Regions from separate parts of the Homo sapiens genome. Here region 1 is linked to region 2. The links come from fine-mapping of genetic effects on gene expression. Tissue or cell type: blood mononuclear cells. Region 2 holds a variant in brackets; the other region holds the start of a gene. All regions are shown on one strand. Distances are from middle to middle.

Region 1 (2,537 bases), 94 kb after region 2:
TGACTACTCTCTAAAGACGCTTTCAAGACCGTCCACTCCTCAATTCCAGGACAGTAAACCTCCCTCGCTAGAGGAGAAAAAGTTCCTGAAAGACAGACCGGAATGGATTTGCTGAACTTTCGTCCCAATCTCAAAGCATGTAGACATCCAAGGGTTCCCAAGGAACAATGAGCTACAGAAGTACAGACTAAACGGGAAAGCAGAGGAAGTATCAGAACAATACCCAAACCAAACACAGCACCGAAAACCCGTGGTAGCCTCTATCATCCCAAACTACCGTCCCCACTTCCCTAGTTTCACCAAGGTCTCAAACTCGGAGAAATGGTACCCATCCCCTAATTTCCTCCCTCAACAGACAACAAACGCGTCATGAAGGTAGCAGCGAGAAAAGCAGCAGGCTCTGGTGGACCGGAGCCGTGATGGCTGGGTGGAAGGAGGCAAGCCAAGGGTTGTGTAAAGAATGGAAAGCTGAGCGATCCTGGAGGAGGGTGGAATTAGGGCGCCCGAGCTAATCCCCCGCGGGGGCCCGCTGGTGGGAAGAGACGGGGGGCGAACCGGCGAGGGGACTGGGGGCACCGGGCTGCGCTGGGCTTCTGGGTCGCAAGAAAGGGGAGCGGAGTCTGGCAGCCCCGCCAGTGGGTGGGTGACGGCGCCTGCCAGGGAGGAGGCTCCGTGCGGAGCGGACGTTTTGGGATTAGAGCGCGCGACCCGCCCTCCTCACGCCGCCCGAGCCCCCCAAGCTCACACCTCAAACCTGCTCTTGGTCACTCCGTTCACGTCCCTCCTCATGGGGCCGGCGGGTGCGGCCCGGGCCGGGCGCTGCGGCGAGCGGAGTGCACAGACCGGGGGCCCAGGACAGGCCCGGGAGTTCCGGGACGGGGACTGGGCGCCGGAGGGGTGACGCCGGGACCGTGGGACGGGAACAAGAGACCTCTCGGCTCCGGCTAGGCCTCCACCACCTCCCGCGGCGCCGGCGGCCGCAACGACTGCTCGTCGCTAGCTCGGCTCTCTCCTCAGCCTCAACTTCAACCCAAAACAAAAACACTCCCCACCTGCCAGCAACGCCGCTGCTCATTGGACAGAGCCGCCCGGGCCTCGGAGCGCCCGGGAGGGGGAGGGGCGGGAGGGGAGGAGCGCGGCGGCGGCGGCGCGAGACCACCCCTCCCCCACACGGGGCCGGCCCTGACGGCGCTCCCGGGAGCAGCCGGTGCGCGGCGGCGGCACGACCCCCTGCGCCTCCGAGGCAGACGAGCCCATCGGGAGAAGGCGAGGCAGGGAAGTGCCTGTGCGTGTGGAAAAGGGGGTCTGTGGGGCGGATGCGAGTGCGCGCGTGCTCGCGGACCAGCGAGGGAGAGTAGAGCAGTACCGCACTCTGCGCGGGGGCCCCTCTTCTGCCCCGTGTCCCCCTCTCCTCCCTCCGCGGGCAAACAGGCACGCACCTGCCTGCACAGAACCTCAGCCTCTGCCCGCGCCCGTCGCCCCTCGTCACTTGTTCCCCAGGATCCTGTAAGGCACCCGCATCCTTCCCGGCCACCCAGCTCCCTTCCCCTGTCACTCACTGTCGCCTTGAACCCAAAGTGCAGCAGGCGGTCCCTGCTCGGAGCCATTTTCCTCCTCTTCTGGATGTGTCTAGATTGGGGCAGTGCGGCTGCCGCCGCGCCTCCGCGGTTGCCGCCGCCGCCGCCTCCCCCGCCTCCCCCGCCCCAGTGCATTACATTACGGGGTGCTGCAGGGAGGCCTGGGGGGCCGGGGCCGGACGCTTGTCTCCCTGTGCATGGCTCGGGAGGGCGAGGGTGGTTGCGCTGAGCAACAGGCCAAGTGCCCGCCCTGGTCCGGGGATGGCTGCGGAGCTGCACCTGAGGCCGGGGGTCGGGGGTGCAGGGCTGGAGCCGGGCAACCCTTCCTTTGGCCGGGGTCGGGGCGCGCGTCCGTGGGGGTGGGGCGGGCGAGACCGAAGAGCCTTTGGTTTTCCTTGCTCGGCCGCCGCCGGCGCCCAATGGGCTGCAGCGCCTGCCTGTCCGCCAATCAGGGCGCTGTTTGGTGAGAGCTTCGGCCTGACGTCACTTTGGCGGGAGAAACAAGCGTGTGTGAGCGAGTAGGCGGGGGCGTTTTCCCGATGGAAACACTTCATCAGACTCCCGGGCTCCTTGTATAGAAGCTGATCTGTGTCATCATATTATATTATGTTTTAACAACTCTGGCCTTCAAGGTCTCAGAATTTATGACCGAATTTCCACGAAGGAATAACACAGGATTTTGTAGTTTTGTTGCCCCTTCTATGAGCAACAAACTACAAAATTATGTCCTAAGAGTGAACTATTAGAAACTGTATAATAAATTCCAGCACACCTGGCAGGAGCAGCAGCACTGCTAATTGTATGCTTCCAAAGCAGTTATGAGTTGGTCTTCCTCACACCCCTTTTAATTAGTGGTTTTAGCGACTGACTTGTTATGCGTCTAAGAAATTAACAAGAGCAACAAGTGCGGCAGATCTTTAAGAACAGGTATATTTTAGCTGGAGGACATATTACCCAACT
Region 2 (2,500 bases):
TATCTATTTTTTCTTTCATTTCCTGAACTTTTGGTGTCAAATCCAAGAAATCACTGCTAAACTCAATGTCATGAAGTTTTTCTCCTGTTTTCTTCCAAAGATTTTATAATTTTAGTTCTTAGATATAGGTCTTTGCAAGACCATTTATTGAAAAGACTGTACTTTTCCCCACTGAATGGTCCTGGCATTTTTGACAAAAATCATTTGACCATATATGTGAAGGTTTATTTCTGAGCTCTCTATTCTATTCCATTGGTCTATGTCTGCTTTATGCCAGTATCACACTATTTTAAATATTTTCAGTTTTGAAGCAGAAAGTGCTTTTGGTGATTGAAATATTTGCATGATGTCAGAAAAACTATTAATAGCAACTGAACTGGTTTCAAGAATCTTCCCTTAGGTTTTCTTACACATTTACTTCCTCTAACAGATTTCTGATATTTTGATTTTTCTCCAACTGTAGAGGCCCATGTAAGGGACTGTTTAAAACTGATAATAAATTAAATAAGCTGGGAGGGTTAAGCAAGGAGCAACACGGAAAGCAAATATAACTGATCTATATCCTGCAATCTCAGCAAGACACCAGCAAGGGACAGGAAAATCCCTGAATAAAAGCCCAGAGACCAATTATAGTGAATAATGTCTAGAGAATCTGCCTTCTCTAAGGAGAACCGGATAGGTGGATACAAAAGGGGGAAACATCTAGTTAAAATGATGAGCAGTATCTGAAGCTGTGGTTATAATTTTTCAGCTTGCCTGAAAGGAAAGAAAAACATTCTGATTTGGAGGGTGGTGAGTTTCATTCAAAAAACATTTTTACCACCTGCTATCTACGGGCACTGTTTTAAGTCCCTACTGTTGAGTAACTCACGGCATAGGGGCTGGAGGTAGATAAAAAATAAGTAAAATATATGAGAAAATTTCAATTAGTGATGAGTACTA[T/TA]AAAAAACATAAAGCTGAGTAATGTGATAGAAGGGTGGTCAAGGAAAGCCTCCCCTAGGAGTAGGTATTTGATTTAAGATCTAAATGATCAAAGGAAACAGATTGCCAAGATCTGGGGAGAAGAGCATTCCAGTAGACGAAATAGTGGGTGTATGACAAACGAATGTTTGAAGATCAGAATAGACAGTGAAGCTGGACTGCAGCAGCAGCACAACCCTATACTGAGTTCTTAATTATGTACCAGGTATCATTCTAAGTGTGTAAATTTACATACTAATCCAATGACTCCTTAAAACAATTCTATAAGATAGGTACTATTAGCATTCCCATCTTATAGATGAGGATATTGAACAAACTTCTGTTAGTCAAGGGCCAGAATATGTTAAAAAAAAGACTGGGCGCAGTGGCTCACACCTGTAATCCCCAGCACTTTGGGAGGCCGAGGCGGGTGGATCACCTGAGGTCAGGATTCCAAGACTAGCCTGGCCAACATGGTGAAACTCTGTCTCTACTAATAATACAAAAACTAGCTGGGTGTGGTGGCAAGTGCCTGTAATCCTAGCTACTTGGGAGGCTGAGGCAGGAGAATCGCTACAACTTGGGAGGCAGAGGTTGCAGTAAGCTGAGATGGCTCCACTGCACTCCAACCTGGGCAACAGAGCAAGACATCATTTCAAAAAAAAAAAAAAAAAAATTTAAAAGACTTTGTGGACATAGTAAATGATTTCAACTGTATTCTAAGTCTAGGGGAAGCCAGGCCAGGCATGGTGGCTCACACCTATATATAATCCTAGCACTCTGGGAGGCCAAGGCAGGTGGAGGATCACTTGCGGCCAAAAGTTTGATCTTTTTTTTTTTTTTTCCTAAAGACAGGGTTTTGCCATGTTGCCCAGGCTGGTCTCGAGCTCCTGGGCTCAGGTGATCTACCCACCTTGGCCTCCCAAAGTGCGGGCATTACAGGCGTGTGTCACCACACCTGGCCCATGGCCAGGAGTTTGAGGCCAGTATGGGCAACACAGTGAGACCCCGACTCTGTAAAAATGAAAAAATTTAGCTGAGGATTGTGGTGCACGCCTGTAGTCCTAGCTATCCAGGGGGCTAAGGAAAGAGGATCACTTGAGCTCAGGAGTAAGTGGCTGTAGGGAACTGTGATCACCCCACTATGCTTTGGCCTGGGCAACAGAGCCAGACTGTCTCTTAAAAAAAGAAAAAAAAATAGGTTTCTATTAGAATGGTGGGAAATAAAAAATCAAAAAAATTTTTAATACAATAATTTTTTTTTTTTTTGAGACGGAGTCTTGCTCTGTCACCCAGGCTGGAGTGCAGTGGCACAATCTTGGTTCCCTGCAAGCTCCCCCTCCCAGATTCATGCCATTCTCCTGCCTCAGCCTCCTGAGTAGCTGGCACTACAGGCGCCGAACCACCACGCCCGGCTAATTTTTTGTATTTTCAGTAGAGACGGGGTTTCACTGTGTTAATCAGGATGGTCTCAATCTCCTGGCTTCCTGATCCACCCGCCTCAGCCTCCCAAAGTGCTGGGATTACAGGAGTGAGCCAC

Evidence for each region. PIP is the estimated chance that this variant, and not a neighbour inherited with it, causes the effect.
Region 1: FBXL20 starts here. The variant in region 2 is fine-mapped to the expression of FBXL20 in blood mononuclear cells (TOPMed, PIP above 0.99).

The regions. Positions count from the first base shown.
Region 1 is chr17:39,400,614-39,403,150 of GRCh38, forward strand. FBXL20 (F-box and leucine rich repeat protein 20) reads right to left here and starts at 1,013. Exons shown (of 15, transcript NM_032875.3): 1 at 748-1,013. The coding sequence starts at 789. RefSeq lists silencers at 266-558, 623-1,052, 1,083-1,282, 1,313-1,392, 1,643-2,032 and 1 more.
Region 2 is chr17:39,306,354-39,308,853 of GRCh38, forward strand. The region is part of intron 2 of FBXL20 (F-box and leucine rich repeat protein 20); the gene reads right to left. Among named protein-coding and RNA genes, the nearest start is that of MIR548BC, 10 kb to the left of the region's middle. The variant T/TA (reference allele first, on the strand shown) is at 943.